Linked DNA regions of Homo sapiens. The protein of the gene in region 1 interacts with the protein of each later gene in a biochemical or structural test. Each region holds a gene or a part of one and is shown on either strand. Other genes may lie near its edges.

Region 1 (7,025 bases):
ATGCACATTGAGGATGTCCTCAGTTACATATACATTTTGGCTTATGAGTCTTTCTTTTTTTAATTTTTTTTTTTTTTAAGACAGGGTCTCACTCTGTCACCCAGACTGGAGTGCAGTGGCATGATCATGGCTCACTGCAGCCTTGCCCTCTTGGACTCAAGAGTCATCTTCCTGCCTCAGCCTCCCGAGTAGCTGAGACCACAGACTGCACCACCACACCCAGCTAACTCTTTAATTTTTTGTAAAGATGGGGTCTCGCTATGTTGCCCAGCCTGGTCCCAAACTCTTGGCCTCATGCAATCCTGCCACCTCGGCCTCCCAAAGTGCTGGGTTTACAGGCATGAGCCACTGCGCCTGGCCAGCTTATGGGTTTTAACTACTTACATGGTGCACTCTAGACTGAGGGATATCCCAGGGATGGAGGACCCACCCACCTCCAGGGCATTAACACTTTTAGGGAGGCTAACAACTGCAGCCACACAGAGGCAGGGGTGGAGAGGAGAGAAGGGTAGCTGGGATCAGGGGCAGGCAGCTGCAGCAGCTACTGAGCTGGCTCACTGTGGGCAGCATGGCTGTCTGGCCCAGCCTGCACCTGAGAGCTAGCTGAATGTTTTCTTCACCTCCTTCCAGGGAGAAATTTTTTCCAGTACTATAATTTGTTGAAGCTGAACCCCAGCAACTCAAACAAGGTACCCTGACTCTGGAGATGTGAAAATGTAAAATAATGTGTGGCTTTGATGAAATGTGGTAGAACCAGAGGATTAAGACTTCTGTGGTGATCCTCTCTGCCTGAAATCTAAATTTAGGAGAGCTGAGCAAACAAATGATCAAAGGCAGAACATGTCTTCCCGACCCTCTCGGCTGTGTAGGCGCTCCGGCCTCAGGGGATGCACTGACTTTCCTCCCACTGTCCTGAACACCTGAGAATCCTGAGCGGGGAACAAGTTGCTCAAAGGGCAGAGAAGTGACTCAGAGGTTCAGCAAGAGAAAAGCCCAGTGTATTAAGCATGTCTTTTTATTCTGATGCTTTGCTGTCTGGGCCTTGCAAACGTGAGAGGGACTGCCCCTCCCAGGGGTAGCCAGTTCCTACGGTTAGCAAAGGACTCACCTGGGAGGACAGCTTTCATATGCAAACCAACCAATCCAGAGCCCACACCCTGTGACCACCTCCATCTGGCTCAAACTCAAGGCCACTGTCCCCCTGACCTAATCACCCAGGGCCTGGTACCAGACAATTAGAGATAACTCCTGTGACCCCAGATCCTGCTGAAATTATTCAAACTCCCCAATCCTAAACCTGCTTACCCTGCCTCCCCTTTCTTTCCTTCCCATGGAAAGAATAAAGGCGCTTTCCCACATTTTCCCCTGGTGCCCTCTTCTGGAGCAACCCTGGTGCTTCCCCAGGTGGCCTCCTGGGCTTAGTGTGCCCCCTTCCTCTTGGGCTCTGTGAGTACAACAACTTGTAAAGATAATTTTTTTTTAGAGCAGTTTTATGTTCACAGCCAAATTGAGAGAAAAGTACAAACAGTTCCCAGATACTACTGGCCCCCACACATGCACAGCCTCCCCGATTATCATCATCTCCCGCCACAGCAGTTGTTACAACTGATGAACCTGCATCAGCACGCACAACACCCAAGGTCCACGGTTTAAATTAGGGTTCATTTTTGGTGTTGCGCCTTCTATGGGTTTAGACAAATGCATAGTGACATGTGTCCACCATTATAGTATCATACACAGTATTCATTGCCCTAAAAATCGTCTGTGCCTCACCTAGTCATCCCTTCCTCACCCAACAACTGCTGATCTTTTTACTGTCTCCATAATTTTGCTTTAACTTGCTTTTCAGTGACAATTGCCTCCTGGGATGTTGGCCTTGCCACACCTGAATAATCATCAAACCTGCATTTTATTTGTTTTTATGTGTATGTGATGGGTTTTTTGGGAGGTTGGAGGGGAGGACAGGGTCTCACTCTACGCCAGGGCTGGAGTGCAGAGGTACGATCACTGCTCACCACAGCCTTGACCTCCCGGTCTCAAGTGATCCTCCCACCTCAGCCTCCCAAGTAGCTGGGACTGCAGGTACACATCACCACCCAGGCTAACTTTTTGTAGTTTTTGTAGAGATGGGATTTCACCATGTTGCCCAGGTTTGTCTTGAACTCCTGGGCTCCAGTGATCTGTCTACCTTGGCTTCCCAAAGTGCTGGGATTACAGGTATGAGCCACTGGGCCTGGCCAAACTGCATTTTAAAATAGCCAAGCCTGTTCCTTGTGACTATTGCCTCATCCTTGTATTCAAGACTGCTGTAAGATCATAATCCTAAGCAAGAGTAGAGACATGTAGCACACCATGATCACTTACTGTCTAACCAATGCTGCCCACCCGCTTCCCTTCTGTATGGCTCACCACCCCCACCCCAAACTCCTATAGGAACTCTGCACACACTCCCTCTCCATTATGCAAAACTGGTCTCAGAAAGGAATCAGACAGAATATTTCTACTGAAAGTATAAAGCTTAATATGTTACTTCTTACAAGAATATTTGCATATAACAAGGGAAAAAACCTTAAGTCATGCAGTAAACTTTTATCTTTTTTTTTTTTTTAACAGGAGTCTCCCTATGTTGCCCAAGCTGGTCTTGAACACCTGGGCTCAAGTACTCCTCCTGTCTTGGCCTCCCAAAGTGCTGGGATTACAGACATGAGCCACACTTCTTTTTTTTTTTTTTTTTTTTTTTTTTTCTTGAGACAGAGTCTTGCTCTGTTGCCCAGACTGGAGTACAGTTGCACAATCCCGGCTCCCTGCAACCTTTGCCTCCTGGGTTCAAGTGATCCTCAACCTCCTGAGTATCTGGAACTACAGGCATGTGCCACCACACCCTGCTAATTCTTGTATTTCTAGTAAAGATGGAATTTCACCACGCTGGCCAGGCTAGTCTTGAACTCCTGGCCTTAAGTGATCCGCCTGCCTCGGCCTCCCAAAGTGCTGGGATTTCAGTGTGAGCCACTGTGCCCGGTCTCTTTTTTTTTTTTTTTGAGACCTTGAGACCGGGCCTTGCTCTGTTACCCAAGCTGGAGTGCAGTGGCAGGATCATAGCTCACTGCAGCCTTGAACTTCTGGGCTCAAGCAATCCTCCCACATCAGCCTCCCAAGTACCTAGGACTGCAGATGCTTACCACCATGCCCAGCTAATTTTTCATGAATTTTTAATTATTGAAATTCAGACATCTAAGAAGATGCTGAGGACTGTCTCCATATTCCTGAAATTACGACTCACCTATTCACAAACCAGCCCTTCTAGTGGAATTAAAATATTATTTGATTTTGAATACCCTACTCTAAGGTAGGCACATTGCCCTGCAATTTATTATTTATGAGGTTTTTAATTATGGAATTGTTCAAATATTCACAAAAGTAGAGAGACTACAATGAACTCCAATGTAGCCATCACTCAGGCCCAACTGTTATCAGCACAGTCCAATCATGTTTTATCTTCCCTTCTCTGACCCCCAACCCATCCCCAGTCCTTATCTAAAATCAAATCTCAAACACCATATCTTTGGGAGCCTATTTATTTAGTTAGTTAGTTTTCAGACAGAGTTTCTTTCTTGTTGCCCAAGCTGGAGTACAATAGTGTAGTCTCGGCTCACAGCAATCTCCCCCTCCTTGGTTCAAGCAATTCTCCTGCCTCAGTCTCCCAAGAAGCTGGGATTATAGGCACCTGCCACCACATCCAGCTAATTCTTTTGTGTTTTTAGCAAAGACAGGGTTTCACCATGTTGGCCAGGCTGGTCTCGAACTCCTGACCTCAGGTGATCCGCCTGCCTCGGCCTCCCAAAGTGCTGGGATTACAGGCATGAGCCACCACGCCTGGCCGGCAGCCTATTTAAATGTCATCCTCAACATAGTCAATCCTTGGGCCATTTTTTCTTACAGTAAAATTTTGTCTCTTTCTTTTAATGCAGTTTCTACGTGGAATTTGGACACTTTGGCCTTCCAGGAACTGAAGTCCGAGCTAACTGAAGTTCCTGCTTCCCGAATTTTGAAGGAGAGCCCATCTGGCTATCTCAGGAGTGGAGAGGGAGACACCGGTATGAAGTTAAGTTTCTTCCCTTTTGTGCCCACGTGGTCTTTATTCATGTCTAGTGCTGTGTTCAGAGAATCAGTATAGGGTAAATGCCCACCCAAGGGGGAAATTAACTTCCCTGGGAGCAGAGGGAGGGGAGGAGAAGAGGAACAGAACTCTCTCTCTCTCTCTGTTCCCTTGTCAGAGCAGGTCTGCAGGAGTCAGCCTTTCCCTAACAAAGCCCTCTATCCTATCACCCACACTTGGGAGGCTGGGCTGGGCTGCACAGGGCAAGATGAGAGATGTGTTGATTTCATCCACTTGATTGTCATGTAGAATTAGATATACTTGAGAAGTTACATTTTTCAGTAGCGCCTTCATATCTTTATTTTAGGGACAGGTATACACCAAGCACCATCTCAGCCACAATCTGTTACTAACAGTATGTTTTCTGAACTTTGGCCACTTAGGAAAAGTACAGTTTGGCTCTCTCCAAAGTGTTCCCTGAAAGTCCAACTTTATGACTAATACTGTGATTTCCAGAAACTTTGACTATCCATGTTATTGACAATGATTACTAGCACTGAAGGGCATGCATGCAAGTAGGGGTTATGAAATATTTAAAACACGGTTCTCTAAGATATGAGCAGCAAAGTGTTTCTACCTTCTATGAGGGAACCGAAGGTGCCATTAAAAGTAGAGAAATCTGGACCAGGCATGGTGGCTCATGCCTGTAATCCCAGCACTTTGGGAGGCTGAGGCGGGCGGATCACTTGAGGTCAGGAGTTCAAGACCAGCCTGGCCAACATGGTGAAACACTGTCTCTACTAAAAATACAAAAATTAGCCAGGCATGGTGGCAGTCATCTGTAATCCCAGCTACTTGGGAGGCTGAGGCAGGAAAATTGCTTGAACCCAGGAGGCAGAGGTTGCAGTGAGCCGAGATCACACCACTGCCCTCCAGCCTGGGCGACAGAGTGAGACTCTGTCTCAAAAAAAAAAAAAATACAGACATCTGTTGTGATTCTGGTAACTCTAAATTTTCAACCGTCTCTTCACTACATTTAAAAAATTATTTTCTAAACCAAATTAGCCAGGTGTGGTAGCAGGCACCTGTAGTCCCAGCAACTCAGGAGGCTGAGATGGGAGGGGTGCTTGAGCCTGGAAGGTCGAGGCTGCAGTGCACTGTGATTGCACCACTGCACTCCAGCCTAGGTAACAGTGCAAGACCCTGTCTCAAAAAATAATTATTTTCATGTTTATTATATTAAAATGATGTATGAAATATGTGACTCATCAGGGCTTGAAAAACTTTGTTGTATGGAGATTATTCTTATGAGTTGATTTTTCTCTCTCCTACCTTATAGTAATGAAATAAACCAGGCATGAAAGTCACAATAAGTAATACAATGAACACCCATGGGTCCCTGCCCAGCTTAAGTAGAATATTACAAATGCAGTTGAAGCCCTCTGTGCAACTTTCATCCTTACAACTGATACTGAGTGAATTGTACTTTAAATATTTTATAGCTCCCACTCCCATGCATGCCCCTCAGTGATAGCAATAATTGTCAATAACATGAAACACAGATTGATCATATAGCATTTACCATATATTTACTCTATACCAAGCACTTAACATATATAATTACATTTAAAATTTACAACAGCCCTACTACCCAAAACACTATTAGTATCCCCTTTTACAAATGCGATAACTGAGGCGTAGAGAGCTAAGTAACTTACTGAAAGTCACACAGCCAGCGGGTGGTAGAGCCTAGCTTTAAACCCAGACGATTTGTCTCCAGGGCTGTCACATCTACTGGCTCTGCCAAGCTTCCGCATGATCATTGTCTGTGTTTGGAAAGATTATGGATTAAGTGGTGCTTCGTTTTCTTTTCTGAATTTACCAGGATGTGGAGAACTAGTTTGGGTAGGAGAGCCTCTCACGCTGAGAACAGCAGAAACAATTACTGGCAAGTATGGTGTGTGGATGCGAGACCCCAAGCCCACCTACCCCTACACCCAGGAGACCACGTGGAGAATCGACACAGTTGGCACGGATGTCCGCCAGGTTTTTGAGTATGACCTCATCAGCCAGTTTATGCAGGGCTACCCTTCTAAGGTTCACATACTGCCTAGGCCACTGGAAAGCACGGGTGCTGTGGTGTACTCGGGGAGCCTCTATTTCCAGGGCGCTGAGTCCAGAACTGTCATAAGATATGAGCTGAATACCGAGACAGTGAAGGCTGAGAAGGAAATCCCTGGAGCTGGCTACCACGGACAGTTCCCGTATTCTTGGGGTGGCTACACGGACATTGACTTGGCTGTGGATGAAGCAGGCCTCTGGGTCATTTACAGCACCGATGAGGCCAAAGGTGCCATTGTCCTCTCCAAACTGAACCCAGAGAATCTGGAACTCGAACAAACCTGGGAGACAAACATCCGTAAGCAGTCAGTCGCCAATGCCTTCATCATCTGTGGCACCTTGTACACCGTCAGCAGCTACACCTCAGCAGATGCTACCGTCAACTTTGCTTATGACACAGGCACAGGTATCAGCAAGACCCTGACCATCCCATTCAAGAACCGCTATAAGTACAGCAGCATGATTGACTACAACCCCCTGGAGAAGAAGCTCTTTGCCTGGGACAACTTGAACATGGTCACTTATGACATCAAGCTCTCCAAGATGTGAAAAGCCTCCAAGCTGTACAGGCAATGGCAGAAGGAGATGCTCAGGGCTCCTGGGGGGAGCAGGCTGAAGGGAGAGCCAGCCAGCCAGGGCCCAGGCAGCTTTGACTGCTTTCCAAGTTTTCATTAATCCAGAAGGATGAACATGGTCACCATCTAACTATTCAGGAATTGTAGTCTGAGGGCGTAGACAATTTCATATAATAAATATCCTTTATCTTCTGTCAGCATTTATGGGATGTTTAATGACATAGTTCAAGTTT
Region 2 (7,025 bases), on another chromosome or scaffold:
AGTCTGAATAGACACATTATTTGCTTCTTTAACAATGCTTTATAAAATGTAGAAATTTGAAAGGCTAGAAATGTTTACAAAGTCATATATCTCATGGATCATCACACATTCTTGGAAATGTATACTGCCAAGACCTTAAATCAAGAACTTCCAACCTTCATGATTTAAAATGGTGGGCATTGAGACCTCCTGACTGCTTGCTCATAAACTTATTTTGCCCCACATTTTCTTATTCTTGAAGATATCAATGAGTGCAAGATGATACCCAGCCTCTGCACCCACGGCAAGTGCAGAAACACCATTGGCAGCTTTAAGTGCAGGTGTGACAGCGGCTTTGCTCTTGATTCTGAAGAAAGGAACTGCACAGGTCAGTTAATGAGCCTTAAGGGCCAGGAGAGGGGACGTCCTTTAAAACTCTTTATCTTTAACATATTGTCGCAAGAATTAAGGCTGTCCTGAGACTCATTTGCTGCCACTTGCTGTTTTTGTGCAGACATTGACGAATGCCGCATATCTCCTGACCTCTGTGGCAGAGGCCAGTGTGTGAACACCCCTGGGGACTTTGAATGCAAGTGTGACGAAGGCTATGAAAGTGGATTCATGATGATGAAGAACTGCATGGGTAAGTTTGGGATCATTTGATCAACACAGAAAGAGAAGGATTCCATGAAGCTTTGATGGCTCATAGCCTATGTTCCAGGTTCTTCCTGCTGCCCCAGTGCAACCAGTGAAGTTAGGAATCAGTCTGCAACAGAGGGAGACTGAGGTAGAAAGAATGAGGGAATTCATGCTGTGGGTTTGTGGGTGATGGCGGAGACCAGTTGTGGGCCCTTGAGAAGTGATTTTAACACCTGAAATGGATACCCAGGCGGAAGAGAGGACAATTGAGACAGAAGCTGTAGTAGAGGTCCCTTTACAAGATGTCTGTCCAACACTTCTAGAAAAGGTGATTGGTAAACTTGTTGCTTTAGGTCTGGTTTCCTAGAAACAAAGTTTGAAATGGAGATTCTTGCAAAAGTGGTATTTCTTACTGTGAGCAAATTCTCTCAGAAGGTACTTGTCAGGAAGTAAGGAGAGCAGGGTAGTGCAGGAGAAGAAAATAAACCAAGAGTTTGGCTGCATTTTGGTTTTAGTCTGATCCTGCAGGGAGATCTGGTGTATGAATAGCACCAGAGAGTTGTCCCACCTTGAGACAAGGAGGTCAAGATGGACACCCAGCAATGGGTGGGGGAGGAGTGCTTGGTCTGGTGGAGGAGATGAGGCCCCCACCTTTAACATGGTCATTTCCATTTTGCAGATATTGATGAGTGTCAGAGAGATCCTCTCCTATGCCGAGGTGGTGTTTGCCATAACACAGAGGGAAGTTACCGCTGTGAATGCCCGCCTGGCCATCAGCTGTCCCCCAACATCTCCGCGTGTATCGGTAAGGAGAAAGACTTTCACACCATTTACTTGTGGTCAGTTGTTTGAATGACATCATTGCCAAAGTTGGAAGCTTATGTTTGGGTGTTTGTTCTTCTTATTTTCCCGACAGACATCAATGAATGTGAGCTGAGTGCACACCTGTGCCCCAATGGCCGTTGCGTGAACCTCATAGGGAAGTATCAGTGTGCCTGCAACCCTGGCTACCATTCAACTCCCGATAGGCTATTTTGTGTTGGTAAGTTCTTTTTTATTTTATTTTATTTTATTTTATTTTACTTTATTTTATGTTATGTTATGTTATGTTATTTTATTTTATTTTATTTCATCTCTCCCTAAAACACTCTATGTACTCTGAGTTTTGTTTTCATCGCTACTTTTACTTATCTTTCTTGTTTCCCTGCAATATTCTTTTTATAGTGGCTCACGATCTTTGGATCTCATCTCCATTATCTGTTTAAAGAGCCAGTTAAGTGAAGGACATAGGATGTTTTAGCTCTAATAAGCATAATTTGACCCATGCCGTTTGGATAGGGAACAGTAGCAGCATGTGCTTTGTCTACACACATGCATACCAATGCACATTAACAAATGGTAACTAACCACCTGAAATAAACTAAACACGGTGAGTGCTGTGGAAAAGAGCAGAAAGCTGAGTTGAAATCACTGCCCTTATGTGGTTTAGATCAGCTAAAAGATTTCAAAAAAATAACTATTGGAAAGAAGACCATGGAATGTTCATATCTTACACTGCAATTGAGGCTATGCCTGGCTCTCCTTAAAGATGGGTTTTTGTGGGACAAGAATTTTGCTTTGTGGTCAGCCCTCTGTAGGTTTAGTCGTGCTGTGAAGAGTGGCACAGACAGTCCTGTGGCTTTATTGTGCCCCGAGTCAAAGTGAAACTTTGTAGAAACTGCCAGTTTTTGCCTGGTTTGGGGTGTACACCATGTGGAACTGCCAAGTCTCACATGGTTTCCACCCAAAACCATAAATCAGCCCAAAGTTTTCTGAAACATGGCCCAGGACAACTCAGAACTTCAACTCAGGTTATTGAAAAAGATTGGAACCTCAGCCAATCAAACTGAATTTCAAGTTTATAAGTGAATCTGTGGCCAAGAGAATTTCATCCACGTGCCTATTATCATAACTGAGATGTGTTCTCCTAGCACCCAATACTTCTCCTGCATTGCAAATGGCACATCATGCATGGTGCAATTAATTGTTCATCTGTCTCCTGGCCACAGTGTAATCATTTTGAAGTCAAAGATTGTGTCTGTCCCATTCACTATTAGAGTCTCATCTCTAGCATATAGTAGGTATGTCATTAACATTTGTTGAAGGAATCAGTGACTCAGTTGCCCTAGAATGCTTTTTCCCCTTTATTTGACGTATGCCTGGAAATGTTAAAAATGTGCCATGCTCATAAACACAGAGGGAGGTGTGTTAGCCCATTTTTGTGATACTGTAATAGAATACCTGAAACTGGGTGATTTATAATGAATAGAAATTATTAGTTCACAGTTCTGGAGGGTGGGAAATCCAATATCAAGAAGCCAGGATTTTGCATGGTCCTTCTTCCTACGTTATCCCATTGAAGAAAGCACGAGGGTGAAAGAGAGCAAGAGGGGGCTGAACTTGATCTTTTATAACAGCACCGATCCCACCATGAGGGTAGAGCCCTCATAGGATGATTACCTCTTTTAAAGGCCCTGCCTCTTAAATAGTGTTACAATGGCAGTTAAATTTCAACACGAGTATTGGAGGGGACAGACATCCAAACCATATCAGAAGGTGATATTATTTTCATTTCTTTTAGACATTGATGAATGCAGCATAATGAATGGTGGTTGTGAAACCTTCTGCACAAACTCTGAAGGCAGCTATGAATGTAGCTGTCAGCCGGGATTTGCACTAATGCCTGACCAGAGATCATGCACCGGTGAGTAGGTTCTAGCCTCATGTTGAATCTCTCAGTAGGTTCCTAAGTAAAGTAGTTTAGGGCCCAGGCTTTGGAGTCAAGCAGGCTTGAGTCCAAACCCTTGTTTGTCATATATTTTAACTGTATCCTTAATCAAGATACCTATTATTAGAATCCTCATCTATAAAATGAAGTTCAAATTGCCTGCATAAAATAGTATTTACAGAGCTTACCATAGTACCTGGCATATAATAAATGGAATATAAAATACATTTTCCTTCATTGACCAGACTTTTGAAGAGTTTGATGTTTTGGCCTAATTCAGTGCAACTCCAGGTTTATTCCTTGAACCATTGGCAACAGCATCACCTGAGAACTTGTTAAAAAAATGTAAAATCTCAGGCCCCATTCCAGATCTACCGTATCAGAAACTACTGAGGTAGATCCCAGGAATTTGTTTTCACAATCTCTCCAAATGATTTGGATGCATGCTAAAGTTTGAGAACCAGTGGTCTAATTTACACTTCCTTTTGTATCACCCTGGCTGCGAGAGCTGTGAGCCAGGTAGAGGTGAGAAACAAAGTGGGTAATAACATAGGCTTTGATTTTGGCTTGGCTTAAGAAGAGAATTTGGATTTAGGAACCAAAATTATTTTACTGACCTAGAAAAATGTCCCTTAAAAAATCTAGATATAAATTTGGCTACAAAAATTGTTGAAAATAAGGCCAGGCACGGTGGCTTACACTTGTAATCCCAGCACTGTGGGAGGCTGAGGCAGGCAGATCACCTGAGTTCAGGAGTTCAAGACCAGCCTGACCAACATGGTGAAACCCCATTTCTACTAAAAATACAAAATTAGTTGGGTGTGGTGGCACATGCCTGTAATCCCAGCTACTTGGGAGGCTGAGGCAGGAGAATCGCTTGAACCTGGGAGGCGGTGGTTGCAGTGAGCCAAGATCGCGCCATTGCACTCCAGCCTGGTGACAGAGTGAGACTCTGTCTCAAAAAAAAAAAAAAATTGTTGAAAGTAAATATTATTACTAAGAGCATCTAAGTAGGTATGGTTATTTCAAGTAATTCTTACCTTAAAATATTGCTAAAACAGTTGATAGAATTCAGGCATTTATAATTTGACAATAGGGAAAATAAGATTTATAATAATTTTTGAATGATAAATTAAATGAAAGAAAGATTTTAAATAAATAATAGACTTTTAAGCAGGTGTGGACGTTGCCCTTGAGCAGTATATTATAAATATTGAAAAATATTTTTTCCTTTTTTACCAAGGATAACCCAATGGGCTAGTTTATGCAAAGCTTCATTTGGATTTGAGAGTTAATAGTCTTATGCTAGTAGGCTAAGTTTATTTGACTGCGGTCAGTTAATGTTTTCTCACTGAACAGTGGAACCAATATCAACAACCTGTGGTTGTTGGTTTTATTCTTTGCAGACATCGATGAGTGTGAAGATAATCCCAATATCTGTGATGGTGGTCAGTGCACAAATATCCCTGGAGAGTACAGGTGCTTGTGTTATGATGGATTCATGGCATCTGAAGACATGAAGACTTGTGTAGGTAAGCAAAGAAGACAGAATTTTTCATCTTGTCTTGTTAGTCATAAGCACTGTTAAATTACATAAAGTTAGTTTGGGTCAGTGATAGAAAGATTCCATAGGAAAAGTAAGGATATTTAGAGGCACAATACTCATATTTTAACCAGCATTCCAAAGAGAGCTTTCTTGTGGCTATTAAATGGTACTCTTGTCAGATATGTTATGAGGACTGACTGGCCATTCGTCAGCTCCAGATGGACATTTCTTTTATGCCTATCCATTACTTTTGTCCACTTAACCCTCCTTCTGCTTTGACTATCATGTAGGCTTTTTAAATCCTTGACTAAAGGCAAACAAAATTTACTTCTGACAAGAATGCAGTAAACTTTAGAACTGATCTATTTGTTTTGTATAGTTTCTATTGTTATGCCTTCAAATTTGATAAACTTTTCTTCTACGATCTCTAATCTGCCTTTCCTCACATACAGTGTATTTTTCATCTCAGATGTTGTAGTTTTCACCTCTAAAAGTTCGACTTGGGTATTTTTTCATATATTCTGTGTCTCTGCATAAGTTCAATCATTCCTCTAGCTGTTTGAACACATGGAATACAGTTATAACAACTTTTAGTGTCTTTGTCTCCTAATTCTGTCATCTGCATTGGTTCTAGGTCATTTGAATAAATTGACTTTCTTCCTTATTTTAGGTCATATTTTCCTGCTTCATTGAGTGACTGGTAATTTTTGATTGGATACCAGATAGTGTAAATTGTGCCTTACTGAGTGCTAGATATTTTTGTATTCCTAGAAATATTTTTGAACTTTGTTCTGAAGTGTAAATTACTTGGAAACACATGGATCCCTTTCAAAGTCTTGCTTTTAAGCTTTTAAGCTACACTTAGTCTAGGGGTAATTTTGCTCTGTTAGTGAGGTAAGACCCTTCTGGATATTCTACCCAATTCCCTGTGAATTATGAGGCTTTCCAGTCAGGCTGGTGGGAACAGGCACAATCCCAGACCCCCTGTGAACTTTGAGGATTGTTCCCTCTCATTTTCTTGGGTAGTGCTTTCCCCAGCCTTGAGTAGTTTGTTTCCTTATATGAATGTGCTGGTCACTACTCATCTGAATACTTGCAGAAGACTCTTAGCAAATCTCTGGCATTGCTTTCTTCTGTGTAGCTCTCTCCTGTCCTTTACTCTGCCCTATGAACCCTAACTACCTCAGCCTTCCAGGATGCCCAGATTCATCTCCTCAACTCAAGGACAGTGCCTGGCTCCATCTGGTACCTCCTCCTTATGCCATGAAGTTAAAACTCTCCTATTCAGTAATCTCGGGCAATTGTAGGATTCACCTAGTTTTTCTTTCTCTCAGGGATCACTGTCTTTTGTTGCCTAATGTCCAATGTCTAGAAAACCACTTTTTAAGGTATCTATTGTCTATTTTTTTTGGTTGTTTCATCTGAGAATATAATTTTAATTCCTGTTATTCTATCTTGGCCAGAAGCAAGAGTCTGGTATTGATTATATTTACATTTTTATCACATTTATCTTCTGAAAGCCTTTACTGAAAATGTTTGAAGTCCTAGAATTAAAATGAATGTCATAAAAAATGAATAATTTTTAATTTGGAAAAGAAGTGAAGTCTTAAACTACTTACACTAAGACAACCAGTTCATCTATCCTTTCTTTCAAAATATGAAAACTAAATTGTTATCATCATGCAGACTGAATTAAACTTTTCATCCTGCAATAGAGTATGCTGTTCTAAAAAGTTTTCTAGACTGTCACATAAACGAGCTCTAAACTCAGCATGGAGCCCATCTGTTTATTTGATTAACTGGCCTGCTGCTTATGGGCCAGATGAAAGCCAGTCTGAATAATGAGCTTGCAATGTAAAGAATGAAGAGCAAATGTAAATTGGCCTCTAAAATTTAACATTGTTTTTCTGAGGGAAAGCATTTTACCTTTTCTAATGTATTTGTCATAGTTATTATGTCTCGAGGGGAAAGTACTCAATGATATCAAATAGCTACATATATTAATAGTATATATGTTTTACAGATGTCAATGAGTGTGACCTGAATCCAAATATCTGCCTAAGTGGGACCTGTGAAAACACGAAAGGCTCATTT
Region 3 (7,025 bases), on another chromosome or scaffold:
GGGTCCCTATCATATTATATAGGCAATTAGATAACTCAAGTTGAATCAAATAATGTAAAAATGCTTTGCTTTCAGAGCTATTTAGGGCCACTTTGAATGGTGGGTTCATTAACTCTGTAGCCATAGCACTTTTATTTGAACCTAGTGTAAAGTTTGTCCTAAGTTTTGAAAAAGATAACCATTTACCACTCCCCACTCCACTAATCTTCAACTAAGAACCTATTAGTTGACTGCATGATTCTTCTGAAAATTTGCAAATTTTTTTCCCTATAAGCTGCAAATACATATTTTACACACATTCAGTGGAGTACAGTGATTATACAGAAGTGACAGAGATTTGAATAGAATGTGGTTAGTAATTTTATTTTTAAATATCTCAGCAATTATAGACTTGTGTCAAGTACTCATAAAATATCTATTTTCATAAATTACTGTTTTGAGAACTGTTTCCGTTTATCTCAACCAGGTTTTAGGAATTTAGGATGACCCCTCTCCAAGCAGTACTACAGTCTCACTAACCTCAAGCAAACAGGTTGGCTGAAAGGGTGACACACAGCATTGGATATCACAAAGGTAGCAGAAACAGGCCAGGCACGGTGGCTCACACCTGTAATCCCAGCACTTTGGGAGGCCGAGGTGGGTGGATCACTTGAGGCCAGAAGTTCAAGACCAGCCCAGCCAACATGGTGAAACCTCATCTCTACTAAAAATACAAAAACTAGCCAGGCGTGGTGACAGGTGCCTGTAGTCCCAGCTACTCAGGAGGCTGAGGCAGGAGAATCACTTGAGCTGGGTAGGCGGAGGTTGCAGTGAGCCGAGATTGCACCACTGCACACTGTACTCTAGCCTGGGTGACAGAGCCAGACACTGTCTCAAAAAAAAAAAAAAAAAAAAGTTGTTGGGAACAGATTATGGGAGGATATTGGCCTAAATAATTCACTAATTTATTTATCATTTAACATGGCATTCCAAGTTCAATAAGAAAAGTCATCTTGCCGGAAAAAAAAGTGTGTGGGAGGGAGCAAGTGTTGGCTCAAAATTTGCTTTGCCTGACTAATGGATCCTTGAGGAAACTCCCCAAACTCCTGGAATCAGATATGAAAACGTTTTTCCTTTTTGTGGGAGTAGGGGGTAGAAGATTATGACTTTTGTTCCTAAGCAAGGCAAGCCAAGGTCATTGCAACCTTCCTGCATAATTGTCAAAGTGAGAAGGCAGAGCACAAGCATATCCCCTGCCTGAAGCCCTTTTGTTTAGTTTCCTTTTGTATCAAAAAGATTGGCTTTCACCATGGGAGAGGTTGTAATTGGATTTCACCATGAAAGGAAGTTGTAATTGGATTTCTCAGCACTCTACAAGCTCTGTCCCTGGAAAAGCAAGGAAAAGGGGCCTGAATATCCTTTCTGCTAGCTGGAAACAGCCCAGCCAAGCCATCAGAGATTGACCTGAAAGGTATGGGCAGAATGGGCCATGTGTGTGTCAGCTACCCCCATCTCTGATGAAAAGCTATGTGTGTAATAGCTAAATATCGCTCCTGAAATTTGTATCTCCTAGAAAAGAGGAGGGTGTCTAAAGTTTGGCATACACTAAAACACAAAAACATCATTCTCCGTCTAGATTTATTAGGGAACCTACACAAACGACCAGAATATGTTTTTATTTTCGGTACTATGGTTTATTTTGCATTCTTTTTCTGTAATTGGTTCCACTTCAGTTTCTATGATATTTCCTAGAAACTTAAATTACAGTAAGATTAGGTCGAAGTAGATATTTGTATTTGATTTATTTTCAGTTCCTATAGTTTTTTAGAACATTAATTTACATTTAAATTTTAAAAGATAAATTTTATTTTTGAAGTTCTGTATATTGCCATGCCACTTAAATCAACTTAGCACACCTGCTCCCCTGGGCACTTCTTGCCTTGCTGTACTTCTTCTTTCTATCTTCCTTCTCTTTCCTTTTCTCTTAAGCATTAATAAGCTGTCTGAACACTGAACCAGACTGTAAACGCAGTCATCCATACCTCTGAAAGGAGGAACAGGATTCCTCTTTCATATTGGCCACATCAGTGACTCCCTGGAAATTTTAGTGCTGGTAGTTATTGCTTCAAGTCTTTCTAATTGAATTTTCCTTGTGTTGCCTAGCATTCCCCTGGTTTCTGAACCCTCCAGTCTGAACCCTCCAGTGGTTAGCTCCTTCTGTGGCAGCCTCAGCAAAATTTACAAGTCCTCTTCCTTCCCTTCTGGGCCTAGGGAACTTGTTTCAATATTTTTGGGTTTCAAGGCAGATGATGACAACTTGATCTGTTTATCACTTTGTCTAAAGTTTAATGAACTAAGAAAGACATACCATGTGTACTAGAAAAAGGAGAGGTTTGTCTTGTTACTTTCTTTTTCTTATTACTCTTGGCCTATCATTTCCTGGAGTATGTACATCCATGCATCCAAATAAGGCCAGGTATCTTCTGTTGAATTTGTTTATATCAGAGGAAGCCTGTAGACTGCTATTTTTAGCAATTATTACAACTATGGAAAAATTTCCTTTCTGGGAAATGTAGTAAACAAAACAATTATTATAGGTACTTTATAAACAGACTCAGAACGTTCCTGTTCACCTTGTTTTTACATAATAGTCAAAGGCCTTGTTATCAGAGAGCAAATCTCTTAGTCATATTTTGGCTAACATATACGTGCTGTTACCTGATCCAGTGTTAACACTGATGCTTTAGAGCTTTTAAAGTATTAATGAGTCTCTGGGGAGAGCTCTATGGTTTGGCCCTAAAGTCATCTGAAGGGTGAAAAAGACGTTCTTCTATTTTGAGTTCTCTGCTGAGTCACCATCTGACATCAAGGTGTCCCAGCCCTGTGAGTGTATATGATATACTCAGAGTCAATGACTTAAGACTTTTCTGGGCATCTGACCTTCAACTGCCCATCATCCTTCCTAATTGAACCTACCACCATAAGAGTCTGAGCTAGGGATAGACATGGTCATGCCTGTTGGGGCTTTGAGACTAACCAGAAATCCATCCAGACGTTAAAAGTATACATTAAACCTGAATCAAGCAAAGGGCACATACATTTAGTGCTCAGGGAAGGGAGTATTATGGAGATTTACATCTTCCACTGCTCTGCCCTTGCTCTCGGGAGCTGGCTGCCTCTCAGTGCCTCAAATAGGCCACGATCCCTCTTGCTCCAGGGTCTTTGCACAAGTGTTCACGCTGTCAGAATTCTCTCTCCAGCACCCGCTCCTCCCAGCCACCACCACCAAACACACACACACACACACACACACACACACACACACACACACGCACACACACAGAGTTAACCTCTATTCAGACTTCAGATCAAGGAAAGCCATTATTGATCCTGAGTGGAGGTCAGGATCCTTATATACTCTCTTGGAACAAAGGTGTTTTGCCTTCATAACACTTATTTCAGTGTATCATTATATATGGCATGTGTTCAAATAAAATGTGTTTTTTCTCACGCCACCAAATCCTGCCGTAAAAAAGAGGGATTTGACTTATATTCAAGTGCTTCCAAAGTTTCTTCATTTTGAGCAGCAAAGTACTATTCAAAAAAACAATTAGAAATCATCTCAAGAGCTGGGCACAGTGGCTCATGCCTGTAATCCCAGCACTCTGGGAGGCCGAGGTGGGTGATCACCTGAGGTCAGGAGTTCAAGACCAGCCTAGCCAACATGGCAAAACCCTGTCTCTACTAAAAGTACAAAAAATTAGCCAGGCGTGGTGGTGCACACCTGTAATCCTAGCCACTCAGGAGGCTGAGGCAGAAGAATTGCTCCAGCCCAGGAGGTAGAGGTTGCAGGGACCCAAGGTCACACCACTGCACTCCAGCCTGGGTGACAGAATGAGACTCTGTCTCAAAAAAAAAAAAAATCTCAAGCAATGCTTATTTTTATTCTTAGGAAGGTCACCTTGACAAAATGGATGAAAAAATAGATAAAGATATTTAAAGCAGGTTTAGTCATTATTCCTGAGGTATGACTTCATTATTGCAAGTTGGAATCACATAGTTTTAGAAAGCCACACTTACAGTTTCAAGTGGTTTTTAAATACGCCCTTTAAAAAGCACTGGAAAAACAATCTAGTCAGTAATGAAAGTGTGGAGAACATGACCACGAGTGAGGACTAATGCCTGGGGATTAAATTTGCAGCATCAGCAGATGTTTAGCAACTTGCAGAAGGATTGATGATGTGCTCTGTATTAGATAATTACAGCGTGGATCCAGTGAACATACACATTGGTGTTAAAGATGCGTATGAAGAGTTTTAACAAAATTGTTTCATGAAATGTGAGAAAGGAAAAAGTCATGTTAATAAGTATAAAATATTTAAATTAAAGTAACATATTAAATATGTATGTGAACCATAGATTAAATATCCCAAGTGTACATTACAATATATTACCCATTTGTACATGCTGTTTGGCCAAACACTTTGGTTGAGGATGTTCTCACTAGAAAGATGAAGATGGCATTGTATTTGGGGGCACCTTATGTTTGGTCCTATGCAGTTTTCATTATTGTGATGGTTTGATTAATGACCATTTTCATAACTACATAGTAAGCACCACAAGAGCTCAGCCCCTCTCTAGTTTTGCTCCTTGCTGCATTTCTGGAATTTTGCATGGGATAGAACACTGAATACATTAGTTGTTTGAGATGTAAGATAAAAATGCTAACTTATTTTCATAATTGCATGACCTAGAAAACACTGGAGGAACTGAAACAGAAACGTAATAAAAAGTTAATGAAAGATAAGATGTTTTAATACTTTTTACCCTGGTGTTAATCAAGATGAGATGAGTCTTTATAAATGTAAAAAGTCACAATTCTTTTTTTTCCCCCTGTAGAAATCAAATGGTTCACATTTATGCAATGATAATTCTGAGGCCTCTATTCATTATATTTGACTCACTGGGAATTCTAAGTTCAAAAAGGCCATTCATGTCAGAGTTAGATCAAACTGAAACTTACCCAATAGTCCCACAGACAGATCTTTTTGAAAAACATAGAAGTTGACCCTCCTGGTCTTAAAGTGTGAAACTTATATTTGTTTTATCTAAGTTCCTTCCTCAGGACAGGACCTTCAGGCTTCTAAAAAAGTATAAAAGAATGGAAACTCACCAGATCACTGCAGCAGATGCCTGACCGCTTATTCACCATGATTGTTTCCTTACCCCTACCTAGTTCTTATTTTCTTACACATTGTTACATTTTTCCCTTGCTATGTAAACCCCTAGTTTAAGTCAGTTAGTGAGATGGATTTGAGACTGTGCTCCCATCTCCTCAGCTGCAGCACCTGATTAAAGCCTTCTTCATTGGCAATACTTGTTGTCTCAGTGATTGGCTTTCTACGAAGTGAGCAGCAGGACCTAGACTGGAACCTTGCTGTTTCAATAACAAAACCATGAAAAAGAATTGTAATAACTACTACTTATTGAGCATGTACATTCATTATTTTAGTTAATCATACAATGATCATCTTGGCATGGTGGCTCACACCTGTAATCCCAGCACCTTGGGAGCCTGAGGCAAGCAGATCACTTGAGGCCTGGAGTTTGAGACCAGCCTGGCCAACATGACAAAACCCCATCTCTACTAAAACAACAAAAATCAGCCAGGCATGGTAGTACATGCCTGTAGTCCCAGCTACTCAGGAGGCTGAGGCACAAGAATCACTTGAACTCAGGTGGTGGAGGTTGCAGTGAGCTGAGGTCATGTCACTGCACTCTAGCCTGGGCAATAGAGCAAGACTCTGTCTCAAAAAAAAAAAAAATACAATGATCTTATGAATTAGCTGTTATCCACATTTCACAAGTGGGGGAAACTGAGGCTCCTGAGCTTAGCAGCCAACCTTTACCATGGGTTAGATACTGTAATAAATGCCTTACATGCTCAATCTCATTCAATTCCCATGACAATTTTATGACTGTTATTATATCTATTTCACAGATGAGAAGACAGAGGCACAGAATGGATTAGATTAAAACAACTAGAAGGTATGAGTGCCAGGATTCAAGTCCAGGCAGTCTGCCCCAGAATTCCCCTCTATAACCACTACACCATAGCACATCGTGAAGATGGGAGGAAGCAGTGGGAACTTGAAAAATGGATTTATTGCAGGGTTTGCTGCAGTATGTGTATCATGTGAGGCCATTTCTATTTCTCTTTCTTTGCCTTCCCAGTTGTTTTTCCCCTGTATGCCACAGTAAACTAGCCACTGTTTTAGCAGCTCTCTTGTTGATTTTTAAAATACCTATTCACTAAATCTTTAAAGGAAACATTTAGCTACTGCAATGGGTGTACATAAGTTGGTTGTGTAATAGGAAGGAAACAAGCCAGGACTGGAGACTTCATTTCTAAAGAAGGATTTTAAAGCAGACTAAGAGTTATTTCCCAGAGCAGGTCATGAAGCAGGAGTCTCTCTACACCCTTTCATTGCTATGACGACAGCCTGCTCCTGCTACATGCAGCCAGAAAAAGCAGCTTACATTTCAATGCTAGGAACATAGGGGAGAGGTTTACAAAAACACCAAACAAAGACAAAAAAACAAAAAAAAGACTCTTTCACTTGAATTTCAGTTAGAGAGGAAAAAATATCCCCTGGAGCAAGTCAAAAGCCCTATTCTTGCCTTTAGAAGAGATAAGAAAGAAGAAATGTTGGGGGCTTTCCCTCTTGTCCAAGTGGGCCAATAAAACAGAATTGACAGCAAAGCAGCATTTCTTCTCACTCTGTGTAATGGCAAGCTGGCATAGAACACTTTCTTTGGTTTCCTTTGACTTGGCCATTAAGAAGCTACTAACTGATGCAGCAGTGAAGTCTCATAGTAATAAATACCTCGTGTTGAGGCCCCCCACCAGGGGAAAATAGTAGTGTCCGATTTACTTTTACATTTCTTTGGATAAAAAAGGCAATTCAAAGAATATTTCCTTCTTGATCTCCATTGTTACTACCAGAGAAATCATTGCAAGTATGTAACAGAGGCCTCACTGATAT
Region 4 (7,768 bases), on another chromosome or scaffold:
ATTTTTAGTAGGGACAGGGTTTCACCATGTTGGCCAAGCTGGTCTCGATCTCCTGACCTTCAGGTGATCCACTCGCCTACACCTCCCAAAGTGCTGGGATTAAAGGGATGAGTCACTGCGCCTGGCCGAAACATTATTTATTTTTGGAGACAGGGTCTTGCTAATGTTACCCAGGCTGGTCTTGAACTCCTGGCCTCAAGCGAACCTTCTGCCTTGGCCTCCCAAAGTGCTGGCATACATGTAACACCATGCCCAACTATTTTTCTTTTCTTGGCCTTTCTTTCTTTCTCTCTCTCTCTCTTTCTTTCTTTTGAGACACAGTCTCACTCTGTCACCCATGCTGCAGTGTGTGGCATGTTCAAGGCTCACTACAGCCTCAACTTCCTGGGCTCAAGTGATCCTCTGCCTCAGCCTCCCATGTAGCTGGGACTACAGGTACACATCACCACACCTAGCCAATTAAAAAAAATGTTTGGCCGGGGGCAGTGGTTCACACTCGTAATCCCAGCACTTCGGGAGGCCGAGGTGGGTGGATCACCTGAGGTCAAGAGACCAGCCTGGCCAAGATGGTGAAACCCCATCTCTACTAAAAATACAAAAATTAGCCGGTGCGGTGGCGGATGCCTGTAGTCCCAGCTACTCAGGAGGCTAGGGCAGGAGAATCAGTTGAACCTGGGAGGCAGAGGTTGCAGTGAGCCAAGATTGTGCTGCTGCACTCTAGCCTGGGCGATAGAGCAAGACTCCATCTCAAAAAAAAAATTTTTTTTTTAAGCTATGGGGTCTCACTGTGTTGCCCAGGTTGGTCTGGAACTCCTGGGCTCAAGCAATCCTCCCACCTTGGCCTCCCAAAGTGCTGTGATTACAGGCATGAACCACCATGCCCTGCCAAGAAGCATTCCTGACAGCATGAGCCCCAACCAGACAGTACGGAATGGCCACCAATTCCCAGCCTGGGCAAGTAACTTAACACACTAGCCTCAGTGTTCCCGTCTATAAAATGTGAATACAACACAATCTATCTCACAGGGTTATTCTCAGGATGCAACAAACGATGATGCTGTGTCATACCAGATACCTACTTGGCAGCTCAGGAACCCTGTAAACATCTGCATGTTTTATCTAGCCCTGAAAGATGCTCAGATGTGCAATACTACTTAGTTGGGTAATTGCTGCCTCTCTCCAGCTAGACCTCAGACCCCCTGAAACGGCCAAAGGTAGCAGGTCCAACAGTACCAAATAAGCAATACAAGGCCTGCAGAGCTACCGTGTGCCAGGCTGGTGAAAGGGGAGCTGAGAGTAAGCCAGGTCCCTGCCCAGGCAGGGGATACCCCACATAAGTGGTAAGACTGACACAAACCCAGGAGAGCTAACAGGTCCAAAGTGTGCAAGGCAGTGGGTGGGGGAAGGGCTTTGAAAGACATCTAATCCCTTCTGAGAACAGGGTGTCTTAGAGGCACAAAGGGTGAATGCGTATCCACCCAGAAAGGTGAACAGATTTACTTCTTAATAATATATCCTGAATGAAATTGGCCAGAAGCCAGAATCTTGTCTGTCTGAAACAGAGCTTGTTTGGGAAGGTCCCGAGAAATCATCCATCACGCAGCCCTCACAACCCTGTCATGAGCCCGGAGCACTGCTGGCACTGTGGCCTCAAAGCAGCCTCCAAGTAGAGCACTGGAGTCCTTGAAACCACCCAGCGTGGTTAAGTGCCATTACTGTCCCCGCTTTACAGAGCGGGAAGCAGGCTCTGAAGTAATTCACTGACTGACCCCCTCACCCACCCCACTGGACACCTCCAGCTGCATGCACGGTGGCCCTCATTAATTATCCCTGTCTCCGCTACAGAGGAGGCTCCTTGGGTGTCCACCTTCTGGGCCAAAAGGGCTGGCCAGGGAAGGATCTTGGGGCCTAGGCACGCCAGCTCCTGCCTGGGAGATACAGCACCTGGTGGCTGGCCCTGCCCCAGGACGTCACTCCCGGCGCTAGGGCCCTGGAACTCCGTCCTTCCGGCGCTCAGCCTTCTCAGTCTCCTTGCCCTCCGCCTCCTCCCGCCCCAGGTCAAATCTTAGACCTCCTTTTCACAATGGATCCCAGGGTTCTGCACCCACGTGCCACCGCCCTCCTCCCCTCTTCCCCCAATCAGCCCCGCCGCTGCCTGGCGTCTCAGCAGCCCCCTGCTCCAAACTCGGACCCAACCCAGGGGTGGCAGGAGACAGGGGTAGGGGAGCGTAGTCTGAGGTGGGGAGAAGGCCGGGCCCCCGAGTCTCCTGCAAGAGGAATTAAAAACAGGGTCTCTAGAGTCGGACTGCTGGGGCTCAAATCAGATCTCCCTGTGTGTAACTTTGGGTAGCTGACTAACTCGGAGCCTCCGTTTCCCCATCTGGAAGGGGGAACACTCCCGGCGGCGCCCACACAGCCAGGTGGTGGAGAGGGTTAAGAGGGCCGCGTTCTGTAGAACAGCAGTAATGGTGGCCTTCCCGGCATCACCCTAGAGGGTACTTGGCGAGTCGCGAGCCCATCCCCCGCGCCACCATGCAGCTGCGCGGCCGGCGATCCGCGTGGGGAAGAGCCGGCCTGAGGCGCACGGAGGACCAGAGGCCCACGCGGCCGAGCCCGGGCGTAGGGCGAGTGTGCGGCGCAGCGGAAGCCGCCTGCAGCCCGGGGCCCTGCGAGGCGCGCGTCTCCGCCCTCCGACGGCGCCCGGGCCACCTTCCTCGTCTAGGCATCTCGCAGCGCGACCCAGAGCCCGCGGCGACTCTGGCCGCCGCAGACGCCCCCCGCCCCGCCCGAGCCGCGTCCCCGGCCGGCGCCGCGCACTCACCCAGAGCCCGCCGCAGTGGTGGCCTGGATGGAGCTGATACGTAGGCGGTTGGCCGTGTCCTTCAAGGCCTGCAGCTTCTGCTGGTCAGGCTTGTGGTAGCTCTCCATGGTGCGGCAGGCGGGGACCGGGCGCACACGCGGACACACAGAGATAGCGGCTGCTCCCGCGGCGACAGGCGGCTGCCGAGGCCGGGCGCGGGGCGGGGGCGCGTTAAGTCGCCGGGCGGGGCGGGGCGGGGATGGGAGAGGCGGGGCAGGGGGAGGAGGCGGGGCTCGGATCACCCCAGGCCTTCAGCCCCGCCCCGCCTGGGGCCGCCTCCTGCCCGCTCCCCTCCCCTAGGCGCTGGGCCGCTGCGGACTGCGAGGTTAGCAGTTAACCACACACACCAATAATAATAACATAACGAACAACTCAGGATTCGAGTCTGGGCTCCTGACTCGAAAGCCTCTCAGTCTCCCTCCTCCACACAGTCCTCCGTGGACTTGTCACGGCGAATCCCATTTTAGAGATGGACAAACTGAGGCTTGGCAAGGGCAATCAAGGTCACAAGGCTGGTGGGTGCCAGGCTTGGCCCCAGCCGACCAACCCCAGGCCCAAGAGACTGCAGGACTTAATTTTGAGACTGAGTTTCGCTGTTGTTGCCCAGGCTGGAGTGCAATGGCATGATCTTGGCTCACCACAACCTCCGCCTCCTGAGTTCAAGCAATTCTCCTGCCTCAGCCTCCCTAGTAGCTGGGATTACAAGCATGCGCCACCACACCTAGCTAATTTTGTATTTTTAGTAGAGACGGGGTTTCTCCATGTTGGTCAGGCTGATCTTGAACTCCCGACCTCAGGTGATCCGCCTCGGCCTCCCAAAGTGCTGGGGTTACAGGGGTGAGCCACCGCACCAGGCCCTATTTCTTTTTTCTAATAATTAAAAAACTTGTTTTTTCTTTGAGACGGGGTCACCCATGGTCACCCAGGCTGGAATGCAGTGGAGTGATTACAGCTGCCTGAAGCCTCAGCCTCCTGGGCTCAAGTGATCCTTCTGCCTCAGCCTCAAAAGTAGCTGGGACCATAGGTACACACTACCACGCCCGGCTAATTTTTGTATGTTTTGTAGAGATGGGGTTTTGCCACTTTACCCAGGCAGGTCTTGAACTCCTAGGCTCAAGCCATCTGCCCTCCTCTGCCTCCCAAAGTGCCGGATTATAGGTATGAGCCACCATGCCCAGCCACTCAGGGCTTTAGAGCCCTGCACAGGGGATGGGGATTATTGAAAATGAGAATAGGATAGTGGTAGCCATGACAATGCCAGGTGATGATAACTGAGAAATTACTAGGGGAAGATCCTTTACAAATTATTAGGGCCTAGAAACACTACTGACTTTTAGGGAGATTATTGGGTTTGCTTCCAGGTCTGTAGGGACAGGGGCACCCACCACTACTGTTATCAGACCCCATGGTTCCCAGAGGTATGAAGCTCCCCAGAGTGGGATTAGGGAGGGGACTTTCATCACAGACACTGTTTCATTCAATCTGCCCACCACACTTGGCCAGTGAGGTACATACTGCCTACAATGCCTATTTTACAGAGGAAGAAGCTCCATTTGACAGAGGAAAGATAAAGGCAAGACCCTCAAACGGATGGCTGGGCAGGGAGCTAAAACCCTGAGAGATCCAAGAGGCACCAGTGGCCGCCCTGTGTCCTCTGTGTCCTCCCTGCATTGCCCATACTCAGAGAGCTCTGGCTCATGAGGCGATTGACTGAATTTGAGTGAGTCCCCCAGCTCGCCTCCAGGTGCTCCTCTGCTGGCCTGACCCCCAGATGCCCAATCAGACCCTAAGTATGGCATCCCATAGCACCTGGCTCCTGCTGGCCCAGCCCGCAGAGGCTGGCCCTATGGTGTCTGGCTGGTGAGGGCTATGGGCTAGGATTGGAGGGGGGCCCCACAGTGTGCCACCCTCAGATGCCTGGCAGGTGCCACCTCTGCCCTCAAGCTGCTCACTGTCTGGAAAAAGGGCAAACCCTTGAAACCCTTTGAAAGCTCTGTGCCTTCCAACTCTGTGGCCCTTAGAGCAGTGGCTCCCTAAGGGAGTGGACTCCATTTCCCCATCTGCCTAATGGGACTCATCCTTATCACTCTGGTCTCTGACAATGGCACAGAACTCACCATGGCTCTGGGGACCTAGGAGTAATGGAAAGAAAATTGTCCCCTCCCCACCACCTGGAGCTCCAGGGACCTCAGGGAGGCTCTCTCTCCTCCTGGTGTTCCACATGAATGGGGCCTGTGATACTATGATATGCATATACAGGCCCCTGGCTTAGAACTGCCCCCAACCCTTGTTATACCACTGGGGTGCTTTAGACCTCAGGAGCAGACCCCAGAAACAGAGTCTCTCAGGCCTTCTCCTACCTTCCTTTCACCTGCTCCTTTCTCTCCCCATGGCAGGATCTTCTCCTGCCGGTCTGTCTTGGAGCTGGCCATAAGTAAGTTCTCTCACCTACCTCGTGTAATTGTAGGTCATTAGACCCCCATGAGAAGGGGTTCTGTCCCATACCCATGAGGAGGGAAGACCAGAGTGGGTGCAGAGTGATAAGGATGAGTCCCGTTAGGCAGATGGGGAAATTGAGGCCACTCCCTTAGGGAGCCACTGTCCTAAGGGCCACAGAGTTGGATGGCACAGAGTTTTCAAAAGGTTTCAAGAGTCTGCCCTTTTACCAGACAGTGAGCTTCACAGAGAGGTCAAGAAGAGTCAGGACACACAGGTCTTGCGGGGTTTCCCCACTCAGTCAGTTAGTATTAGATCATATACTTTTGGTCTAATCACATTTCCACAAGGTTGTCAATCATGTCTGTCCAATGAAATGTCCATGAAAGGCTCAAGAGGACAGGGTTCAGGAGCTTCTGGACAGCGGAACACGTGGAGGCTCACAGGAAGGTGAACAAGAACTCATCCACGTGCTGGGAGGGTGGAACATTCCAGCTCCATGGAGACAATGGCTCCTTCACTAGGGACCTTTCCAGGCCTCCGCCTATGTATCTCTTTGCCTAACTGTTTCTTTGTCTCCTTTAAAATATCCTTTGTAACTAACCGATAAATGTGCTTTCCTGAGTTTTGAGAGCTGCGCTAGCAAATTAATTGAACCCAAAGAGGGAGTGGTGGGAACCCCAACTTGAAGCTGGTCAGTCCCAATCTTGCGACTCATGGGAAGGAGGAGGTGCTCTTGGGGGACTGAATCCTTAACCTGTGGTTTCTGAGGCTATCTCCAGGTAATTAGCATCAGAATGGAATAGAGTTGGAGGACACCCAGCTGGTGTTGCTGCAGAATTGGTTGCTTGCTTGGTGCATGGGGAGAAACCCCCACACATTTGATCACAGGAGTCTTTTGTGTTAATTGTTGTGGTGTGAGAACAGAGGAAAAACAGAGTTTGAGTGTTTTCCCTTTCACAGGGCCCAAGGGTTCAGCCTTATTTCAAGAGCTCTTGGTCTTCCTGAAGGTCAGCTTCAGAACCAGAATCCTAGGCTAGCTGGAGGTGTTGCTAGCACCCAGTTTGTCCAGGGTGGTTCCCTTGTCCCCAGGTCCCAGGGTCTTTATTCGAACCCTCACGCCTCAGAAGTCACATGGCACTTGGAAGAAAGCCCTGGGATCCTGTCTGGCTTCCAGCTAACATCTGGCTCCCTGCTGCCCTCACACCCCATCCTCTCTCAGCCTCCTGTTCACCCTCCCCATGGCTGCCAGAGAAGTGTTCCTCCCCAGCTTAACTCCCATGTTGTTCTTCCTCCACCCTTTGGATATAATTCAGGTCCCCCAGCCCTACCCATCTCAGCCACACTGACCTCGCATTCCTTAAAAAATACCAAGCCCACTCCCTCCTAGAGGTTTTGCACAGGCTGCTCCCTGAGCCAGCAGAGCCCTTCCTGAGGCTCCTCACATGGCCTGGATCTAGAGCCATGCTGCCCATCACACTGCCTGTCTTGGTCTCTGCAGGGCTCTCTGCCTATCTGCATGATCTTTGGTCAGCTCCCGGAGAGCCGGAATACAATCTCTTGTCCCTGGCTCTATCCGCAGGGACTACAACTGGGTCTCATATACAATAGGGGCTCAATGAATGCCTGCAGAATGAAAGCATGAATGTCAAGTGATGTGCCTGAGGACACAGAGTCAGCAAGTGCCAGGGCTGCACCCAAGCCAAGAGGGCATCAGGGAGGCCTCAGGGGAGGGAATCTGGCCATTCAGACTGGTGTCCTTCATTCCGGCCTTTCCAGAAACCGAGACACAAAGGTGCTCTGTTGGAGGGTAGGAAGTGGCAGAAATGTCCTACTGCCGGCATCAGGTGCCAGCAGAGGCCACAGTGACCTGAGAGCAGAGCCACATTCTGGAATCTGAGCTGTCCCCCAGGACCCGTGCAGCACTAGGGAGAAGGTCACCCTTAGAGGAGCCAGAACAGTGTGAGTCCCCACGTAAGAGTCCCCCACAGCCACTCCCCAGGGATCTCCAGTATCACTAAAAGGGACCTGAGGGGGGTTGGGGTCCTGAGGGGTGCCATGCCACCCAGTATTGTTCCTGGGCAATGGCTTTGATCACCAAGGCAGTGCTGATGGATTGTACTGGCTGCCTAGAGTGGAATGTGAAGCAGAGAGTTCTGAATTGCCCTTCAGCCTGAAATGCCAGGACCGGTCTAGCCATACTGGGCAGGGGCACCTTGCATAAGAGACTGGCAGTGTCAGGAAGTCATGTCCCACCTCTTCATGTCCCCTGTACTTTGGGGACCCAGAGGGGGCTGCACTTGGGCCGGGCATGACGAATCCCAGATTGCAGGAACTGTTTGGCACACACACACACTGACACTCACAGACAATGCTCACACACCCTCTCACGTTTGTTGTTGTTAAGAGATAAGGTCTCATGCTATGTTGCCCAGGCTAGTTTTGAACTCCTGGGCTCAAGTGATCCTCTTG

The links.
Region 2: the proteins of MYOC (region 1) and FBN1 form a complex in vitro, tested with the Homo sapiens proteins (one study listed by BioGRID).
Region 3: the proteins of MYOC (region 1) and SPARCL1 form a complex in vitro, tested with the Homo sapiens proteins (one study listed by IntAct).
Region 4: the proteins of MYOC (region 1) and TKT interact in far-western blotting, tested with the Homo sapiens proteins (one study listed by BioGRID).

What each region holds. Positions count from the first base shown.
Region 1 is NC_000001.11:171,635,666-171,642,690, reverse strand, and holds part of MYOC (myocilin precursor), read left to right. Parts: intron 1-3,968; coding exon 3,969-4,094; intron 4,095-5,981; coding exon 5,982-6,766; 3' UTR 6,767-7,025. UniProt on the Homo sapiens protein: Secreted glycoprotein regulating the activation of different signaling pathways in adjacent cells to control different processes including cell adhesion, cell-matrix adhesion, cytoskeleton organization and cell migration.
Region 2 is NC_000015.10:48,481,710-48,488,734, reverse strand, and holds part of FBN1 (fibrillin-1 isoform a preproprotein), read left to right. Parts: intron 1-241; coding exon 242-367; intron 368-493; coding exon 494-622; intron 623-1,297; coding exon 1,298-1,423; intron 1,424-1,534; coding exon 1,535-1,660; intron 1,661-3,238; coding exon 3,239-3,361; intron 3,362-4,791; coding exon 4,792-4,917; intron 4,918-6,954; coding exon 6,955-7,025.
Region 3 is NC_000004.12:87,519,373-87,526,397, forward strand, and holds part of SPARCL1 (SPARC-like protein 1 isoform 1 precursor), read right to left. Parts: exon of another isoform or gene 5,981-7,025; intron 1,451-5,980; exon of another isoform or gene 849-1,450; intron 1-848.
Region 4 is NC_000003.12:53,253,015-53,260,782, forward strand, and holds the start of TKT (transketolase), read right to left. Parts: upstream 3,009-7,768; 5' UTR 2,929-3,008; coding exon 2,822-2,928; intron 1-2,821. UniProt on the Homo sapiens protein: Catalyzes the transfer of a two-carbon ketol group from a ketose donor to an aldose acceptor, via a covalent intermediate with the cofactor thiamine pyrophosphate.